Linked DNA regions of Homo sapiens. The protein of the gene in region 3 interacts with the protein of the main gene of each other region in a pairwise test. Each region holds a gene or a part of one and is shown on either strand. Other genes may lie near its edges. The genes, in order: SERGEF, ZNF438 and DPH3.

Evidence for each region.
Region 1: the proteins of DPH3 (region 3) and SERGEF interact in binary tests that used the Homo sapiens proteins (3 or more experiments, as listed by UniProt).
Region 2: the proteins of DPH3 (region 3) and ZNF438 interact in binary tests that used the Homo sapiens proteins (3 or more experiments, as listed by UniProt).

What each region holds. Positions count from the first base shown.
Region 1 is NC_000011.10:18,002,941-18,010,049, forward strand, and holds part of SERGEF (secretion-regulating guanine nucleotide exchange factor), read right to left. Parts: intron 5,137-7,109; coding exon 5,001-5,136; intron 3,807-5,000; coding exon 3,651-3,806; intron 1,596-3,650; coding exon 1,501-1,595; intron 1-1,500. UniProt on the Homo sapiens protein: Probable guanine nucleotide exchange factor (GEF), which may be involved in the secretion process.
Region 2 is NC_000010.11:30,846,791-30,853,899, forward strand, and holds part of ZNF438 (zinc finger protein 438), read right to left. Parts: intron 3,578-7,109; coding exon 1,741-3,577; intron 1-1,740. UniProt on the Homo sapiens protein: Isoform 1 acts as a transcriptional repressor.
Region 3 is NC_000003.12:16,261,838-16,269,650, forward strand, and holds the start of DPH3 (diphthamide biosynthesis protein 3), read right to left. Parts: upstream 3,107-7,813; 5' UTR 3,040-3,106; coding exon 2,932-3,039; intron 2,393-2,931; coding exon 2,318-2,392; intron 1-2,317. Other genes in the region: OXNAD1 (oxidoreductase NAD-binding domain-containing protein 1), read left to right, coding at 3,978-4,022, 7,289-7,438.

The DNA.
Region 1 (7,109 bases), on a different chromosome or scaffold from region 3:
GTTCCTCTATTCCTTAATTATATAAAGTATAATTAAGCTAAATTAATTATAACTTATATGTAGGTGCTTACAAGGCCATCTATTTGCAATTGGGAGCTATAATACTTCCTTCAGGGACTACAGAGCCTAGACTTTGTGCATACCATGGGAACCATGACCCGAAATAACAGTCCACAGACCAACAACTGAGTTCAGCAAGCTGGCAGGGGCAGACCCAAGCTTTCTCTAGGGAAAAAACATCTCCCACTATTAATCAGAGTTTAGGGAAATTAGATCGGAGTGGGACAGCTTAGGTGGTAAAACTCATTTTTGATTCAAGCATATTTCTTTAAAAATTCTATATTCCTATTATGATCACTTACAATATAAACTTCACAAAAAGGGGTGATTTTAAGTATGATGCACTGAAGTAAAGAGCTCTGAACTAGAGCCAAGAGTCCTGTTTAACACTTGTTTTGTCCAATATGGTAGCCACTACCTACACATAGCTCTTGAAAACTTGAAATGTGATTACACTAAACTGAGACATATTGTAAGTAAAAAATGCATACCAGAGTTCAAAGACTTAGTACAAAATCAGTATAAAATACCTTGTTAATAATTTTTATACTGAATTAGCTGGGAATGGTGCCAGGCACCTGTAATCCCAGCTACTCGGGAGGCCGAGGCAGGGAACTGCTTGAACCTGGGAGGCGGAGGTTGCAGTGAGCCGGGATCGCGCCACTGCACTCCAGCCTGGGCAACAGAGTGAGACTCCATCTCAAAAATAAAAATAAAAACAAAAAATAACTTTATACTGATGACATGCTGAAATAACAGGCAAATCTATAGAGACAAAAAGTAGATTAGTACTCACCAGGGGCTGAGGGGAAGGGAGAATAGGAATTGACTGCTATTAAGTACATAGTTTCTTTTGGTGGTAATGAAAATGTTCTAAAATAAGATAATGATATTGGTTGCTCATCTCTGTGGATATACATTTTAAAGGGGTTAATTTTATGGTATGTGAATTACAGCTCAATAATGCTGTTATTTTAAAAATTACTTTCACCTGTTTCTTTTTTAAATAGGGCTACTAGAAAATTTTAAATTACATATGGCTCACATTATATTTCTACTGGCTAGCACTGGCCTATACCATTTGCCTAGCTTAGTGTCTTTCGACAAATCACTTCTATCTGGACCTATTTCTAACATAATTTCCATTATTACTAATTTTAGAACTGTAAAATGTCATCAATATCCTTATGAGATGTATTACTCTTATTGTTTTATTTCACAAAACTTCATATGAAGTGTATGAAAACTAACAGAGGTTTTCATTCACAACGTTTACCTCCCAACTTAATTTTTCCCAGAAGGACCTATTTTTCAACTCAAATTCTCCTACTCCATGGGTTCTCAGGGATCCTGACAGCCTTTTATTCTGGGGAGAGATAGGTTAATACCTTGGAAACACTTTAACAGGTCATGGGCAAGCTAAATATTAACTGTCCTCACCTCAATGGCCTGGGGAACCACACATCTTCGAGGTCCATGAGGAACTCCTAACTGGCCAAAGGAGTTGGATCCACATGATAGAACTTGACCATTTTCTGCAAAATACAAATACTTAAATTGCAAATCTATGAAGTAAGATGTCTGTGACCAATGGGTAAATGCTGCAGGGTGAGAGATGCAAAGGGGATGAGGGGAAGTGCTTCAGTGCATTCAGACCATATTCCCTGCTTTTATTCCTCTAGGAATGAAAACACTGGGCACCAGGTTAAGCACTCTACACAGATTGTCTATTCTATTCTCTCATTAATAACAGATTATCTGTGTAGAACACTTAACTCAGTGCCTCGTATTGGGATGGGAGGATAGTAATTTTTCATTTTTCATGTTTCCATGTGACAAAATTTCCATTAGTAAAACAACACTCCAGCTTTTCTCCCTGCCCTTCCCCATCCTCACTGCTTTCTAGGGGACAGCGGTCATGTAACCAACTGGTGAGTTTAGGAGATGGGACAGGACATGTGTGGCTTGGCACCTCCCTCTCAGTCATTCTAGGCTGACACATAGGAAGCATTTCCCTGTGGGGAAAGCCTAGAGATTTGGGGGTAAGTTTGGACCAGAAGAATATTAGGACCACTGGCCTCATAATTAATACTGTCCTCCAATTTAGCCTTTACCAGTGAAAAGCCAATAGTTTTTAATCTCCAATACTGACTTCTCTGTGCTTTTCTCACAACTGGCTCCAAATGTGAGCAGGAAAGAGCATTATCTACTGACTCCTTACAATCCAAAACATAGGCTCACAATAAACACCTTATAAATGATAGTTATTGTTTAGATTCTAATAATCACCATCAAATTCAACACATATTACAGAACCCCTCCACAGAGGAGGATGGTGACACTTGAGCAGGGTTTTAAAGCTGGGATTCGAGTCCATCAGATAGACAAGAGGGGCTGGTCCAGACAGACAGAAGAACATATACTGCTTGGTATGACCAGAAAGAAAAGTATGAGGAGTGTGGAGAATAAGAGACACAGCACAAAGATAGCTAGGGAACAGTTACAGAAGGCCAACGCTAAAAAGCTAGGAATCTGAGCTATGTCTGGGAGAATCCACAAGGGTTTATGACAGGAGAGTGACAGAAGATGCCCTTGCCAAAGGACCGTGGCAAAGAGGGAGCCTGGTCAGAAACCACAGATGGTCCTTTAAATCCAGAATGGCCAGCTAGACAGAGCAAAGCTGAACAGAGAGGTCAAAACTGCTTCAAGGGAACAGACGTCAGCTGACAAGGTAACTACTGCTGGCTGTTCCCAAGTGCATTACTCTAATAACCCTCTGGCCATATCCTATCCTGCTACCTGGCTTCACAAAGACCAAACAGATCTGCCTAACACATTTAGAAAAAAAAAAATCCCACAGTGTGAAAAAGCTGCCATCACTGCTTTGGCAACCACTATTGCCTCATATTCTCCTACCACATTCCCTGTAAGTAACCCTCTGCTGCCACTGCTGGCCACTGGCCAGCTACCCCAAGCACACAGCTATCATGAACTTTTGGGACAGGAAGTGGCCACCAAAGGTGATCTAGTCTATTCCCTACTCTCTGACAAAAGTTTTCCACCCCAATCCCAGTCTCCTTTACCGTTAAACTCTCCTTAGAAAAGGTAGTCCACAACTTTCCTTGACAACCAGAGGGAAAATTTGTGTGTGCTTTTTATTTATTTTTATTTATTCTGAGATGGATTATTGCTCTGTTGCTCAGGCTGGGGTGCAGTGGCGCAATCTCAGTTCACTGCAACCTCCACCTCCCAGGATCAAGTGATTCGCCTGCCTCGGCCTCCCAAATAGCTGGGACTACAGAGTAGCTGGGACTATAGGCATGGGGTACCACGCCTGGCTAATTTTTGTATTTTTAGTAGAGACGGGGTTTTACCATGTTGGCCAGGGTGGTCTCGAACTCCTGACCTCAAGTGATACACCTGCCTTGGCCTCCCAAAGTGCTGGAATTACAATTGTGAGCCACCGCACCAGGCCTTATGTGTGCTTTTTAAACACAAAGAGGCTTTCATTTAATCTGCAGTCACCATCATCATACTGTTCTCACCCAAAGCCTTTGTGGTGACAAAAATCTACCTAGGAGTGAACTCACCTGTGAGCATAATCGTAAAATCCCAGCCACAGGCCACCTGTTGGATGGGACAGCCAAAGAGGGATTTGCAGGGGGTAAAATATGGGATATCCTCTGTGTGACCAAGCCCCAGTTGCCCATCTTTGTTCAGGCCACAAACAAAGAGGTCTCCTCCATCTGCAAAATATAAAGGCATCAGTGATAGCGTGCACAGGAAAAAACACAACTGCAAAATGAACAAAAAGATTTCACTAATTATTTGGACTCTCAGACCAATAACTTTTTTTGCCATCCAAGTTAATAAGCTGTGTATGTTCATGTATTCTGGAGCCAAACAACACAAGGCCAAGGGCCTCAAACTAATACCTACAGAGAAACTTCAAGTCTTGGCGCAGTGGTCAATCAATCACCAAACTGAGCATCTACTGGAACAAAAAGCCAACAACATTTATTCAACATTGAGAACGTGCCAGGTACTGTTTTAAGAGCTTTTTGTGCAGAGCGGACTTATCCTTTAGGCACAGTGTCTAGGGCCCACAATGCTTTCAGAGGCCCACAGAGTGGCTTAATTTTTAGTTATTTTTAAATGAGAAAAAGATAATATAGTAACAATGCATATATAACACTAAATCTGGAGTGGATTCTATTAATATCCATCTTTATACCAACACAGTTGTAAAATATAATTTTTTTCTTTACAAAGGAAGAGGTCCATAAAGGGAAAAGCACCAACGACCCATGACAGTCGGAATGGAGCCCTGCTAACTCACTGGTTCTCTTCACCCACCATTATTATCCTCATGTAACAGATTCAGAAACTGTGGCTATTTGCCCAAGGCCACATAGATAATAAGTCACAGAACCAGGATCTGAACCCAGAGATTTGATTCCAGAGCTCATGTTCTCAACCAGATGCAATATGCCCCCCTTTACAACATTGTAGCACTTGTACTACTTGTTAAGTGCTATCCTAGATACAGTAAGGGAAGATTAAGGGGAACACACAGTTTTTGCTCTCAAGGAATATCCAATCTAATTACAAAGACTTCTAATTCCTATGGTGTAAAATATACATTGTAACTCTGCCACTACTTTGCCTTGTGATGTTAAGCAATCAGTGTTCCTTTCTGAGTTTCATTTGTATAATGGAGGGGGTGGGGGAAAGGGGTGGCCTAGAAGATCTCTGAAGTCCTTCTAGCCCTGAAAATCTAGGATCTTCTGATGGTAATTTGGCTCTTTCACAAAAATGTTTCACAAAAATACATTATTTTCCTCTGCAAAATACAAAAGGCTGAAAGATGGCAATATCATATCCAGGGGAAAACGTCTAAATAAGAAAATGAGTGACTATCTACTTTTGAAGGAAATTACCTGTGACAACTGCAGAGTGGCCCCCTCCTCCTGTGATCCTCCTGACACTCCTGGGTTTACAGAAGTCATTCAGTTGCTGGGGCAACAGCACATCTTCCTTATGGCCGAGGCCAAGTTGCCCATAGCTATTTGCACCCTAGGGATGAATAAGCCAAGGATGAAAAAGTGTGGGAACCACAACTGTCAATGTCTATTTACCTGTCTCTGTCTCTCTCACCCTGACGTATCTCTCAGACCCTGTAACAGATGAGATTTATTAGGCTCATTCTTTTTTAAAAAAAAATTTTTAGCTCCTTCACGGCAAATACTCACAGCACTGTTTATTCAAATATATAATAACAAGCACCAGAAAACAACAGGTAACACTGTCTCCCCACCCCTGATCTGTAATCCCATTAGAAAGAGACTCATGACCATAACAGTGGAGGAAATTCATGTCCAGGAAAGTTCCTAGGTAGGCACCCTGGCAGGCTTAATTTACTGGGGCAAAGGACAAATGCCCTGCTTGGCCTCCTGCAGCAGCTGAAGAAACCACACTTTTTTCTACCTCAGGCCCCAGAAGGCAAAGCAGCAATGCTAGCCATGGCTGAAGGGGACATGAGTCCTATGAGGTCCTTGGCCTAGCCCAACCCTCTGGAGGTAATGGGGTAAAATGGCCTTTCCTCTTAGAATGGCCAGGAAAAGAGAGGCCATCTCCTAAATCAAGGTTCTTCTGACTGAGAACAAGACAGCCTCTTGAGGAGGAGGGGCTTCTCTTCTCTAGAGAGAGTTCTGGGCTACGAGTCGTTGGCAGGTGTATCTCGTATCTCTCCTTACCCCCTCCTCCTGCACCCATGCCACCTCACTGCTTTCCCTAGCTGAACTTCAGCCCCCAAATGAGAACACTATCCAGCGTGTTTCAAATAAATTATAAATATGGACACAGAATCCAAACAAAGTTCCAGGAGAAGCTGCTCACAGACCCCTACAGGGTCCAACCTGAAGAAAAATGAAGGTCATTCCTTTGTTATCTGTGTCTCTGGAGCTGTGGGCAAAACTGTCTCCCCTTGTCCTTGAGTAACCACGGGAACAGCTCAGGACAGAGAGAGTTTCAGACTTAGAAACACTCTTACCCCATCTCCTTTCTTCCCTCCTCAAATCCCTTCCCCAAAATCTGAAAAGAAAAATAATAATAATTCGCTCACCAGAAGGACTCTGGAGCATTTGGGAATGTAAATCTTACCCTTCCTTTGTCAAGTGGGAAACTGACCAAAGAGGAAATGACCTGTTAGGCTCATTCTTAACGGCTGTTATATGCTCCCATATTTAGATGGAGGCCCCATCCTCAGAACACCATGATTTCGATATGAGAAGAGTCCTAGGCATCCACAACTCAGCCAGTAATATTCCTCATCTTTCCCTTCTTATGCTCCAGCCCCCAGGTACTGCCTTTTGGAGACAGCACAGGGGTTCCTTCTGATAAAAGCTAACTACCTAGGGAAGCTAAGGAAAGAAAAAAATGAGAGAGAAATGGCATCAAAATGGGAGGGCAACATCCTGGAATTAGTTCTTGTTTCTCCTCCCCACACCCATGATGGGAAAACCAACAATGACTCTGGAATCAAAGCTGGCTAAGGATTTCTTGCCTTAAAGCAAGGCACGTCATTATTTCATTTGTACAGTGAAAGAGGCTGGCAATGATCTCTAAAGCCCTTTCCAAGTACAGTGCTATGTGACTCCAAGATTCACATGGTGAGATTCCAGTAAGGGGACAGATTTCCCCTTGACAGGCAATATGTCTATTATTATTATTATTATACAAAAAGGGTCCATAATCCCTAATCTGAAATGCTTACAGTCAGATGTATTTCAGATTCAGAATTTTACAGCTTTTAGAAAAGTAATACAGTACATATGTCATATATACTGATGCAAGGTCCAGGGACAGCAGCCCATAAGCAAAACAATAATATTTCTGCATTACAAAGTACAAATATTCATAAGAAGTGGCCAAAGACTATAAATGGCCTTATGTCCAGTAAGTTTTGGGTTTTCAGAGCTTTTTGTATTCAGAATTGAAGACAAGGGATTGTGGACCTGCAGAGAGAATCTTACTAAGATTTCAGAAAT
Region 2 (7,109 bases), on a different chromosome or scaffold from region 3:
CCAGGAAGGCCCCTTTCCCCCCACGGGCTCAAGAAGCACCTGCTCCTGCTGCCTGGCTTCTCCCTGCTGTCAGCACCTGCTCCAATCTCAAAGCAAGGCTGGGGCTGAGCCTGGGCTCTGCTGTAACCTGGTTGGGTGTGCACACGCTTGAGGCAGTGCTGATATGCCCACCTCCTACCCCATTGGCCTGCTCCAGACTTTGGGTGCCAATAAGCATGGAAGGGAGGCTGAGGAAGGGGTGCTCAGGACAGCTCGGTGCCAGCCTGCAGGTGCCCCCTCAGCATGAACAGCCTGGGTGCCATAAACAGAAGCAGGGAGCAAAGAAGCTCCTGGGCAGAAAAGGGGAGGTCCCCGGTGAAGCCCCACCTTCAAGCCAGAGAAGCCCTGAAGCCTGGGGGCCAGGTTGCCAGTCATGTGGACTGGAGTGGGAACTTGTGGTGCTTTTCTGGGTCTGTCCATGACTGCCCATGGACCAACTGCACGCATTTCCTCTCCTCTGAGGCACATAAAAGCCCCGGACTTAGCCAGACTTGAAGAGACAATGGGACGACCAGTGGCAGAGAGGAGCTACCCTCTCTGCTGAGAGCACAAGAGATGACGGGGAAAACCTGCCTGCAGAGAGGAACTGCCCCCTGCAGTTCAACTCTGAGCTGTTCTATCACTCAATAAAGCTCCTCTTCATCTTGCTCACCCTCTACTTCTCTGTGTACCTCATTCTTCCTGAACGCAGGACAAGAACTTGAGACCTGCCAAATGGTGGGGCTAAGAGAGCTGTAACACAAACAGGCTGAAACACGCCTCTTGCTTGCCACACAGCAGGTGAAGAGAAGAGCTGCGGCCCTTTGGGGAGCTCTGTCCTGGGAGCCCCCTGAGCCAGGGCAGTGACTCCCTAGTCTCCAAGCTTCTGGGCAACATCATGTTCCTGGTGCCAACCGTGGAAGCTGCTTGTGATGTGCCTGGTCCAGCCACAGCCTTGCAAGGAGGTGGCACCTGGAGCTGCCTGGCCTGCAGCAGCAGCCGGCGTGCCTGCCTATGCGCAGTGGCCAGACCCCACGCTCACTCACACATCCCTCACCACTCTGTGCCTGGCTCGCCCTTGGCAGGCATGGGATCTAGGCCGGTAGCATGAGCTGAGTGCAGCCTGCTAGGTTCCAAGTGGGTGGAACGAGCCTAATGGGCCAGAGCAAAACTCAGGCCAAGGCGCCACTGGCCACAGAGGTTTCCGGCTGGTGAAATGACACCCCAAGGATCCCATAGCAATAATACCAGGAAGCAGTGCTTGCAAAAAGGAATGACACCAGAAAGAGTGAACCCGAACTGATGGGAAAAACAGGGCAAATGAAGAGGGTGGGGTCTGGGCACCTTAAGGTAGGGTCAACATGACAGACCCACCCACTCTGAGTCCCCAACCATGGGTCATGCCGCATTTTGGGGCAAATGATGCTGTTTAAAATAACGCAAATTCTGTGGATGTGATTTTGGGGGAAATTACTTGTAAAGACCACTGGAACTATATACAGTACTTTACTAGATTGGTTAGGGTAATTCCAAGTATGGATGATCAGAAACCAGAGAGAAACAAGATCATTCTTCACAGATCTAGGAGGTATACATAGCTACTTTATGAAATCTTAATCCTAGAGATGTTTTATAAACTCTCCTTTCTGAATATGAAATCTTCCCCTCTTCCCCAAATCAAAACAGACTCTCTTGCCAGGTCTCCATTACATTGGCACTCACCTCTCCAATGATCCCTCCATGCCTCGCACACTCATGTCTCTGTTCTTTGGTATGTCTCCTGGCTGCAGTTCACTGGGCGCAGGCTCAGTGCTGATCACAACCCTATGCACTTCTTTCAGATGGCCAAAATAGACTCGGATGTGGCCAAACACTTTTGCACAAAACTCACAACACATGAGTTTCTTCAGACGGTTCTCACCATGATGAAGTTTCATGTGTGTGCTCAGGCTGCCAGGACGTACATAGGACTTGCGACAAATCCGACAACTGTAAGGGCGTCTGTTGGTGTGTGTATTCATGTGGTCTCGAAGGTGCTGTTTGAACTGGAAGTGGTGGTTGCAGACGTGACATCTGTGCCAAGGCTTCTTAATGCCAGAGAATCCATTTCTGAACACGGAGCTGGGCTTAGGGGAAGAGCTGTTGTCTTGCTTACAGCCAAGATATTTAGGAGTGAGTGAATTATTTAACAAAACATCCTGTCCTAGGCCCCCAAGCATCTGGGACTGTAGTGTAGTTGGAGAAGCCAGGGAGGCCAAAGTGGGTATGACCATGATAGGTTTGGGCATAATGCTACGGTATTTTTTCAGGGTCCCCAGCTTTTGGTCTCTGAATTCTTGGGGATCATTTTTTACTCTTTCTTTACCATCTCTACACTTATTAATGATATATTTCCTCCTTTTTCCCTGAAATGCCAAAATTTCATCTGGTACCTTCCGTTTTCTTCCTTTTCTCTTTGCTGCTCCACTGTTCAGTTTTGTTTTGTGGTTAAGATCAAGTTTGGTGGGTGGACAAAAGGCACTTTCACAGGCACTCTGCTGTGACACTTGTGGAACAGGTAGCCTGCTTGCCACCTTGGTGGCTGCATTAAAGCCTTCTGTGGTGGAGGGTATCTTATCACAGTCGGCCTTAGGTCCTGGTAAAGAAAAACCTGCAATGTTAGCATCTGATTTGATTTTGTAAACCTCCATTGTCTTCATTCTTGAGTAGGGTGGGATTGGCAGTTTCCCTTTGGGGACTGAAGAGATCAACTGAACTGCATTGCCAAGAATGGTTGGTGATAAATTGGTCATGGTTTTTGCAAGATCAACTTGTTCTTTAAATTTTTCACTGGCAACAGCAGAAGGTTTACTAGATGTTATCTTGCTTACAAAGTGTGCTTTCCCTGAAAGAGCTGTGAGGTCCTGCTTGGCAGGCTCCTCTGGTGTGGATGATGCTGGGGTAGCAGGAGGGTTCAGACTGCCATGGGTGTTGGTCACTGGTGGTCTCAAGTCCCCATGGTCACTTCCATTGGTCAGCGCAGCTGTGCTAATGCTGGCTGGGGCTTGCTCTAGTGATGGTACTTCCTCAAATGGACTGGGTTTGTACAGGAGTTCAGGGTGGTGAGGTGGGGAAGGGGACATCTGAGGACACATTTGGGTTTGGGCAGGAGCTTTGCTACAGCCACTCTTAGGAAAGATCAGGATGGGTTTCTTTCTTGATGCTTTGCTATTTCTAGGGGGTTGATATCTAGGAATAGGAAGTTTCAGGTTTTCAGGTAGGGACATTCTGGGTTTCTGAATTGGCTGAGCTGAGGCAACATGTGGCAGAGCAACAAGAGAAAATGTCCCCTCCTGGCCAGCAACCTGCATCAGGGCATAGTTCTGGGTGGACATCCCCAGCAGCTTGGAGTTGATGGAGGGTCCCAGATTCACCTGATCAGAGCGTGATGGTGAATGACATGGCAGCATTCTGGACGTTAGGACTTTGGGCACAATTTTTGGTGCAATGGTCCTAAACTGACTCTTATTCTGCAAACCTTTCCTACTCTGTATTGTTCCAGAAGGGATGTTTGATTCACCTGCAATGACAATAAAATATAAAGAGTTACTGTATGTAACTGTTCTGTTAGTGATACTTCAAACAACAAGCATCTTATTTACTCTGCCCAGAACAGATTCCTTGACCTACCTCCAAGCCTTCTGGGCAAAATCTTGTGTCCCTCAAGACCAGCTTGAAGATCAATTCCTGCCTACCTTCCCCAAGGATTTCTATACTTATCTATGGTTCCTTAGCTCCTATTATGTTATTTACCATTTTCCATAATAATTTATGTGTTTATGTGTATCTCTACTAGTCAACACTGCTTGACAGCGAAAATTCCGTCCTTCTCATCCATGTATTCTGCAAGTCCATCCTCTCCATTTAACCTATCCCCACTCATCTTCACATGATGTCTGGTATGTTCTGCTATGTAGTTTATTATTTTATATACATGTTCTGCTTTCCCTATTAAGCTTCAGCTTTGTGAGGGTACAGCCTATATTCATCTCATCTTGATATTTCCCACTGTATCCTTTGTATAAAACAAGCGCTTCTTGTATCAAACTCATTTTTCACTCAATCTCAGGATACACCATTTGACCCACTGGCAGTTGAATTTGTTTTGCACAGTGGATGCATTCCAGACTGAATGCTAGCTTTGTTGCTGTTTCCCCATGTGACTTACGAATTTCTTCTCACACCTTTCAAACTGTTTATGTGTGCTTTTGCAATTAAATCACCAGTATTAAAAAAGCTGATGTGACACCTTTAAAAAATGTTGAACAAAAAACAGAAAGATACAAAGTGATAAGTACAGATACAGAGACAACATGCAAAATATGTGAATGGCATAAAAAGCACCTTCTAGGATACTAATAGGAACAATTTTGACTGATAGGGTAACACTTCATTCTTTCTGGATTTATTAGCCTGACCTAAGATCAATTACTACTACCTTAAGAGAACAATTAAGGAAACATTTTGGTGTCCTGCTTCTAAAGACTGAATTATCTATTTTATTCTCTGAGGTCTCAAGGTCACAAGACCTGGCTGCAGAAATGTTTCTAATTTCTAAGTATCTCATATTAATCAAACTTCAATTCACATTTACTAGGCACCTACATTATTCCAATCATTATCCCAGGATTGGCTATTGCCAAGTCCACAATCCCTTTTCTGAAATTTTTGGAGGAAGATGTGGTTTGGAATTTATATTTTCAAATTTTGGAAAAGTAGTAAGATGCGTGTACTAAATGTTACATAACTCCCAGCGGAATCTGCAGGGCACCCATAATTGAACCTATTACCACTTCTGTAGCAAAACATGCAAATATTCGCAAGTTGGACAAATGAAGATTTTTAAATTGTCTTTATTTCAGTTCAAGTTTTTGCTTCTGAATGAGTTTGTAACAACTTTTCATAAACTTCTGTTTTCAGAGTTTTTTAGATTTTAGAGTTGGGGGTAGGGGACTGAACACTATCTGTTAGAGGATACAAGGTAGGTAGCAGACAATCTAGTGAAACAGACAATTGAAAATGTAAAATCAGCTGGGCACGGGGGCTCACGTCTATAATCCTAGCACTTTGGGAGGCTGAGATGGGCGGATCACTTGAGGTCAGGAGCTTGAAACCAACCTGGCCACGTGATGAAACTCTGTCTCTACTAAAAATACAAAAAAAAAATTAGCCAGGCATGGTGGCAGATGCCTGTAATCTCAGCTACTGGCGAGGCTGAGGCAGGAGAATCACTTGAACCCTGGAGGCAGAGGTTGTAGTGAGCCGAGATCGCACCACTATACTCCAGCCTGGGCAACAGTCTGAGCGAGACTCCGTCTCAAAAAAAAAAGAAAAGAAAATGTAACATCAACCTTGATTTTCTTTTTTCTTTTTTTTTTTTGAGACGGAGTTTTGCTCTTATTGCTTAGGTGAGTGCAATGGTGCGATCTCGGCTCACAGCAACCTCTGCCTCCTGGGTTCAAGTGATTCTCCTGCCTCAACCTCCCAAGTAACTGGGATTACAGGCATGTGCCACCACACCCAGCTAATTTTGTATTTTTAGTAGAGACAGGGTTTCTCCATGTTGGTCAGGCTGGTCTCGAACTCCCGACCTCAGGTGATCTGCCCGCCTCGGCCTCCCAAAGTGCTGGGATTACAGGCATGAGCCACCGCGCCCGGCCCGTCAACCTTGATTTTAATGCCTACAGTGAGTGAATTAACAATTTTAGCAGGAAGTTGATTCTTTCAGCAGAAATGACACCGCCTAAATAAACAAGCAACCTAGTAGAAATAAGGTGAAATTTATATTGACCAGTTTATTTTTAGAAAGTAATTGTTTTGCAAAGAAAAAGGACATTATGAAACATAAGTTCACAGGATAGCCTGCACGAGAGTAAGAAGTACAAGGACTAGTGAGTGCTATTGTCTGGAAAAATCAGACAAAGATAATTATGTTATTTGTTGTTTTCCTTCTGAGTTTGGTTACCGTGAATTCCGCTTATGGGTAAATTGAGTGGTAAATCACTTGACAATAGTCATCTGTATGGATTGCTACTTCTTCCTACATAATTTTAATTTTTAAGTTTTATTTTCATAGCCTTTAAATTTAAATGTTTTTCATTTTAAACCTCACCTTCTCATCTTTTTTTTTTTGGAAGAAGTACCAAAATAAGTCATAAATAAACACTTTAAATCAGGATTGAGAGACTTTGCAGAAAGCCTAAAATTATTGATGGCTTTTGGTTACTTAGAGATGTGGCTTAATAAATAATTACATTAACAGTAATAATGTTCTTTGCATTTACACAACAGATCTGGGGTGTGGAAGGAAGAGAAGAGAAAATATTGGGTCATTTATCACTAGTTCTTCCTCCTAACTGGGCAGAAAATATTTACCGCAAGATGAGCTAGAACAAAGGCTTAGTAATTCACCCTCTTGAAAGAATATGTGACAATAACACATCATAGCACAAGATCTATGACTTCCTCATCTCAAATCTGTCCAATGGCTCTTCATCTCAGAGTAAAGCCAAAATCCCTGCAATGGCTTAAAAGGCCTCATGCTTAAAAAGGTTCTCAGGAGCCTCTTTGACATATTTCCTCTACTTGCTCCACTCCAGCCATGGTGGCCTCTTTGCTGTTCTGGGCATGCACCTCCTGAGAGGAGGCTCCTGGCTGGGAGGAGCATTGGCTACTCCCGCCCACCCAAGACACTCTTCCCTCAGTAAATCCCCAGTACTTGCTGCATCGTTTCCTTCAAGGTTTTGCACAAATGGCTTCTTCTCAACGAGCATCTCCTCTGATGACCTTATTTAAAACTATATCCCATTGTGAACTCCCTGCTCCCTCTTCCTGTTTCATTTTCTCTAGAACATATGCTCCATTTATGGCCAGGCATGGTGGCATATGCCTGTAATCCCAGCACTTTGGGAGGCTAAGGCAGGCAGATCACTTGAGGTCAGGAGTTTGAGACCAGCCTGGTCAACATGGTGAAACCGTTTCTACTAAAAATACAAAAATTAGCCGAGTGTGGTGGCAAGTGCCTGTAATCCCAGCTACTTGGGAGGCTGAGG
Region 3 (7,813 bases):
AAACCCATCAGTTTAGAATCTTATGTCTTGAGACTACCGCCTTGCTATTCTTCTCTGTTGCTGTCATTTATCCACCCTGGATGCCATATTCCAACCCCTCTGGACCTCCACCATATTCATCCTACCACCCTTTCACTGCCCCTCACTCCCTTCATGTTCTCTTTACCTAGTTCAAACTCCATGGTCAGTTATAACCACTCTTCTCTCACTCCTTACTATTCACTTGGGAAAACCTTAAACCTGGTTAAATCTAACTTTCCATGTCTATATTCACTAATGAAGGCTGAATTTCTACCACCTTAAACCCTCTCTTGATCCTCTATCACCACTGGTTACTGTCCCATGTCTGTGCTCTCCTTTGCAGCAAACTCCTTAAAAGAAATGCCTATACTCACTGCCTTCTGTTCTCTCATTCTCTCCAACCAGTATTCTGCCCATTGGTTTCTTCACTCATGCGCTGTTCCTGTTACTCCATGGAAACTGCTCTCATCTCCGTCACAGATGAACTCAGTGTTGCTAAAGCTAATGGTTAATTCTTGATTGCTTCCTATCAGTGTCACGTGACAAGGATCACCACTTCCTCAATCCTTTCTCATCTGGTTTCCAGGATTTGACACTGCTGATTTTCCTCCTTTCTCAGTGGTTTCTCCTTTACCATCAGCTTTGGTGATTCCTCGCTTCCCTCCCTGACTTTTTAATACTGTAGTGCCTTAAGGCTCAGTCCTGTATTTTATCCATCTCTACATTCACAGACCTGGTGGTCTCATCCAATCTCATGGCTCTAAATGCTATCTGTTACTGATAACTCCCAAATTGACATTGCTAGCCAATCTCTCTCATGAACGCCAGACATGCATATCCAATTGCCTTCTCAACAGCTCAACTTGGATGACAGACCTCTCACTTAGTATGTACAATTTCAACCCCTATACCTATAGTTACATTCCCTCAATTGACAGTAACTCCATCCTCCCAGTTATTAAGGTCACAAATATTGAAATCATCCTTGTCTCACTCCTTCACACCCTATATCCAATCAGTTATTCAAAGCGTATCCAGAATCTAAGTACTTCTCATTATTTCCATTGCTGTAACCAGGTCCAAGCCACCCATCTCCTTCTTTAATTAGTGTAATAGCCTCCTATTACACTGGTTTTCCTGTTTCTATGCTTGCTCTCTATAGGCTACTCTGAACACAGCAGCCAGAATCATTTTTTAAAAAACTTAAGTTGGATCATAGCACTCCTATGTTCAAAAATCCCCCAATGGTTCCCTATATCACTCACAACAAGAGCCTAAGTCCTTAAAGTGATCCACAACTTCTTACGCTACTCTCATCCTGCTCTGCTCTGGTCACACTGGCCTCCTTTTTGTTCCTTGATAAAATCAGGCATGTTCCTGTCTTAGGTCCCCTTCACTGAACGATCCTTTGCTCGACTCTCTTACCTCATACCCTCATATGTACATGGCTCACTCCCTCACCTCCTTCAAATCTTTACCTATTAAGGCCTTTCTCAGTAAGGCCTGCCATGATCACCCTATGGAAAACTGCAACTTCCTCCCAGACCAGCACTCCTGATCTTCCTTACCGTTTGCTTTCTGTTGCAGAGCACATTTTAATACAAGAATGAATCATTATATTTCTAAATTATAGTCTAAATTATAGCCCGCTTCTCTCATGAGGCTCTGTGCCTCATCCCCACTTTCCCTATATTCATTTTGGACTTCATCCTTGAGAGTGTTAAGGTCCTTACCTAAGATTCCATTCCAAGTACTGAACAAAACTTTGGGTAGGAGTGGGCAGTAATAACATTTTTTTTTTCTATTGTCAACATCCTTGGGTGAAAGATAATAGGGCAACTAAAGACTAAAATGAAATTGTAAAGCTGCACCTAGGAATTATATCTCAAACAAGATAATGCAGAATTCTGTGTATAAGCCAGCACGAAATACCATACAATTGTTCCCTTCAAAGTAAGTCTAGCAGCTCTAAACAATTTTAATTACATATTAAATAGAAGAGAAATATAAAAAATTGTCCACTAAAATAATCTATATACTTTCTATTTAATAAATAATAATTTTCACTAAAGCTAGATTTATCTCTAAAGCTAAAATAAATTACGTAATCTGAACTTTAAACGTTTTAATTTACTATTCGGCTGTTTATCAATGGTGTTTAAAACCTGCCTAAAAAAATACCGCACTTTACCTAGCACAATGAAACATTCTCCTGCACTCATCACTGACAAGCTGATCTAAGTCCTTGCCACTGACTTACAATACCCTTCCCCCGTTTTAAAATTATATCCCTTACTTTGTCATAAATCACTTTTATAATGAGAGAGCAGCTAGGACACGTTGCCACGTCTTCCCCATTCTCCAAATCTTCCTACAACGAAATCAAATACCATGTGGTCAGGATAGCTTCTCTTCGCCATCTCCTCCCCCAAACCTATCCCACCCCTAGATGCAAGTCTCTTGGTGGCTTGCCTTCCCCCCAAGGTGGGTGAGAACCCCAGGGCCTTCAGCGAGAAATGCCGACATCATTTTCCCCTAGAAGCGTCACTTAGGGGAAACACCTAGGAAGGTCAGGCGAGCTTCGGTCGCCCCAAAAGCCCTGGGAAACAAAAAACGAGTCCCCTCCTCGACAGAAATATCCCAGGTTGGGACCCTAAGGCAGGGATCGGGCAGAGAGACAGAGGCTCTCCGCCACCCTCTCCCTGACCTAATCTAAGGCCAGAACTGCGTGCCTACCGAGAGAGCTCAGGGCATTAGTTGGGGTGGGGGGACGCGGGAGGAGGAAGATTCAGCAACGGGAAAGAGGGCGTGGGTGACACAGCGCAGCAAAGGCTACCCAATGATGGAAGGAACGGGCGGAACCAAACTGCGCTTGCTTGGGTGAACCGCCGGGCGGGACCCTGAAGTTACCTTGGTGATGGAGAAGTTATCTCCACATGGGCAGGGATAGAAATACGTCTCCGAGTCCTCGTCATATTGGAAGTCCTCGATTTCCACCTCGTCATGAAACACTGCCATGGTCAGCGGGGGTGGCCGAAGGGGTAACGCCCCAGCAGTCCGAGGCCAGCTCCGAGGGTTTAACTTCGCCGGAACCGGCCTGGGCTCGGCATCATCAGGTCGCGCCGGGCAAGGACTAGCCCTTCCGGCGCATAGGCAATGACGCAACTCCGCCCTGCGCGGCCAAATGGATAACCGGTAGCGGTCACCATGGAGATGGCTGAACTAGGGGCGGAGACACTGGGAAGACTGAAAGCTTGCTCAGCGGGGTCGCGCACCGCTCCTCCTATTGGGCGGCAGCGACCAATAGAATGTGGGGCTCGCCCGCGCTGCTACGTCACGTCTGGGACCGCGGAGTATTCCAGGCGCCTGCAACTAAACGTGGCCGGGTCTGCAAGCTAGGTGCCAGCGGGGAAAGTTTCCCTGCTTCTTATCGTCTGCTTTAACGCCTTAAATAGCCCGCTGAAGGCTGCAGCAGGTGCTAGGTAGCAGCCTCCCGGCCCTCGGGAAAGGCGGGGTGGGGAGGCGAGAGCAGCTTAGCCTCCTCGACCTCCCTTCCTGGTGACGGACGAACAGTTCCCGTAGAATTTCGCTTCACCGAGTGACCTTGAGCCCAGGGCGACGGTCAGCTTGTTAATTCCTGGCTGCAGGTACATTCCGCTTCTTCCTCACCCCAGACGCCTTAAAATACCCTAAATTGTGTTGCTGAAAGGACCAAGCCCTGGAAGGCAGGGATTGAGTTCTAGTCTTCTGTTTGCCAGGCTTATAACATTATTAACGACGATGATTTTTAGTAATAGTAATAACATCACCTTTTATTATTGGGAAGTTATGTGCCAGCTATTGCACTAAGTGGAATTGTCAACTCTAGGAGTTTACATGTTATTCCATTTTATTAATCTTTAAACTGAGGTACAGAGAGTTGGGCATCTTGACTAAAATCATACACCTGGGAAATAATGAAGAGCTTGTCTGTCTCCAAAGCCCAGGAACAAATTACTTATGTGAGTACCAGTTTTTTCGTTGTGAAAGAAATGGTGTCAGTAGGCAGGTTTATCAGTGTGAGGCCTATGTATGCCTTGAAGCGAAATGCAGATAAAAGGCATTTTTGTCTTGAAAGCAGTGCTAGTGCCTGTTTTGGTAAAACCGATTACATTGGGTCTTACTTAATTACTAGGCATTTTAATATCTTAGTAGAGAAGAAATGCATTGTAGTGAAAAAGCACTTTCGAGAGAAGATCTGGGATCGGAATCTTGAGTTGTTGATTACCTCTGGCAACTGGATATTTACATTCTTTGGGCCTTATTTCCTCTTCTAAGAAAGGATTGGAGTAGAGATGATATAAGATCCTTTTTAGATGTAATGTTCCACTTTTGCACGGAAATTATGAGCTTTACTTGGTTCAGCAATGATATATAACATTTAGTTTACATTTACGTAACACATATACATAATATATCCCTGTGCACTTTTGAAGAAAACATTACAATGACTACTAAACTTTACATTTATTCCTAAAAGGGCGGATCACGAGGTCAGGAATACGAGACCAGCCTGACCAACATGATGAAGCCCCGTCTTTACTAAAAAATACACAAATTAGCCAGGTGTGGTGGTGTGCCTGTAATCCCAGCCACTCAGGAGGCTGAGGCAGGAGAATCTCTTGAACCTGGAAGGCAGAGATTGCAGTGAGCTGAGATCACGCCACTGCACTCCAGCCTGGGCGACAGAGCTAGACGCTGTCTCAAAAAAAAAAAAAAAAAAAAAAAAGAAGTAGGTCATAATTGTATAATGCAAACTATATTTGATGAGTGCTGTTGTATATCAGGCCAGAAGGAGTTGTTTATTGGCAATACCAAACCTCCACCTCTCTAGGTTGTTTGACAAGGAAGAGAAGGGGTCAATGTATTAGGATTGATTTTAGTAACACTGTTGCTTGCCAGGTACTTTGGTAGACATTTTATTTATTCCTCTCAGTAATCCAGTGAGGTGGCGTGGGTAATGTTAAAATGGCAAGAGGAGACTTGCTGAAGATTAGAAAGCAGGAAGGAGTCACACCTGAGCCCAGTTCCGCTGATTTCCGGTCAAATACTCTGTGTATACTACTTGTTTACCACTAAGGTGTCTTTGCCTGTTGGAGCAAGAGGAGCCCTTTTTCTTCCTCAGTGACACCTAAGATTCTAAATTGACAGATGTCATGATTGTTCTTTGAACTTACTTAATTTCAGTGCATTTATGCTTATTGAGGCATTCTTGGCTTTTCTCTGTCAGTGTCCTCTCACACCCTGCCTAATGTATCAGCAAGTTTTGGGGCTCTAATTCCAAAATATATGTCATGTTCATCTACTTCTGCCATCTCTGTAGCTGTTACCTTATTATAATCTTAGACCAGAGTCTTTTAACTGGGTTTCCTGCTTCCACTCCTGCCCCTCTCCCTCTGTTATCCTTCCCACAGCAACTTGAGCAGTCCTTTAAAAATATAAATTAGGTCTTGTCCTTCTCCTGATTGATTCAGACTTTTCAGTTGCTTCCCATTACCCTTAGGATAAAATTCTTACCCTTACTATAGACTGCTGGACTTCATCTCATTTCACTCTTACCAGCTTACTGCTCTCCAGTCACACTGGCCTTGGTTCCTTTAACATGCCGGGCTTATTTCTGTGTTGGACCTTTGCTCTTGCTAGTCCTTCTGCCAGAGTTGTCTGCCTTTAACATTTGCTTGGCCGCCTTTTCCTCATCATTCAGATCTCAGCCAAGGTGTCATCACTGGAGAGATGTCTTTCTTGATATTTCCCCCACCTACCCCATCACTCTTACTCCCTTTATCATACTCATCATAATCTATAATTATCTTGTTATTTGTTTACTACTATCTGTCTCTGGAACTGTAATAAAAGCTTCATGATGGCAAGGGCCTTGCGTCTGGTTCTTTATTATATCTCCAAGGCCTAAAATAGTGCCTGGCACCCCTGTAGTTGTTGAATGAACTGAGTATACCTGTTGAACTGAAACCATATAATTAATCTTAAATGTTAAATTTAATCTGTTGCTTTCAGAAGTTTGTTTTACTACATATTTAATGGGTGTCAGTTTTATTTAGCACTTATTATACTTTTCTGCATTTCAGAAATAAAGTTAATTAAGATTTTTTGGTAAGGGAAGGCCTGTGAGGATACAGACATTGATGGGATGGTCTACTTTATATGGTTTTAGAAATAACTTGATATATATTGATCTGCTGTGGTTGATTAAATGCTTACAGTATGGAACCGCCGGACATATTTCAAAAAATTAGTAGGTTTTAAATTTTTTATATTTTATTTAAAGGACTGGCATAAAGCTTTGGAAAGCACTTTAAACAGAATTTTATAAAAATGTCCTTTATTTACCAGTAGGTGGCACTCTTGGTCATGGTTACTTTCACAAAATAAAATCTTAGGATTTTAAAGAGAACTCCTTTTTTTTTTTTTTTTTTTTTTTTTTTTTTTTTGAGACTGAGTTTCGCTCTTGTTGCCCAGGCTGGAGTGTAATGGCATGATCTTGGCCCACTGCAACCTCCGCCTCCCAGGTTCAAGCGATTCTCTTGCCTCAGCCTCCTTAGTAACTGGGATTATAGGCGCCCGACACCACACCTAGCTAATTTTTTGTATTTTTAGTAGAGATGGGGTTTCACCATGTTGACCAGGCTGGTCTCAAACTCCTGACCTCAGGCGATCTACCCACCTCATCCTCCCAAAGTGCTGGGATTACAGATATGAGCCACTGTGCCCGGGAAGAACTACTTTTAAAATTAACATTTGTTTTCCAGTTCAGTTGAGAAGGGGACCATTCAAACAGCATAATCATTAAATGATGTATCCTATTGTGAGGACAACTTATTTTAGCAATAGTTGTCTAAAACATTGAACAGAACAGTATTTCCATATTTAACAATATAGTGGTTAAATTTTATCAGGGAACTTGGCCTTAAATGACATGTAACTGTGTCATTCTAGCCTTTGGTCTGCTGTTTCCTGGGGTGGATATCCTAAGTAGCAGGTGTTAAAGACAGGCAAGGAAGATGAACAAAATAAGCTGTAAGATAAATAATCAAAAAAGAAAAATGGAAGCATGGAGGAAAGAATGGATGGAGAGGGGGTAATTGAGAGTGGGCTTGTTGTGAGGTGATGCCTACTGATTTTAATGAGCCTTTCCTTTGGCAGCTAAGAGGTAATAGTGCTTTTGATCAGTTCCCCAAAACATTGTTATATGTTGTTTGTGCCATTGCAGGAACTTTGTGAGAATTTTAATGCATGGAAAAGCTGTCCATGTTCCAACTGCTGTACATCCAAAAGTCTCAGTGTAATAGCAGGACCAAAATATTCTGTCAATCAGCTGACCATATACTTAATGACTCCTAAAATCTCGTGGACTTCTAAGGTAAGTTTCAACTTCTTTCTTTCAGGGATTAAGGTAACATTATTGACTTAGAACATTTAATGGAGAAAAACTACGTTTAGTGGTCTTGAATGAGGTTGAAGAGGCCTTCTGCTTTTTTCATTTAGTAAAGAGAAAAATAGCAAGTAGCATGCTTATCCGCAATGATGCTGCAACATACTATGACAAGAAGAAATATATCGTTTATCTAAAGACTAGTTATGAAGCAGTGAGCTTTTTAATATGATTTGGGTATAACCAAATAAACTGCATATGACTTATATCACCATCAGATTTATTTATTTTTATTTATTTTCTGTCTTCATCTATTGGAATGCAAGCTCTCTAAGAGAGTTTTTGTTTTCTTCATGCCTAAAG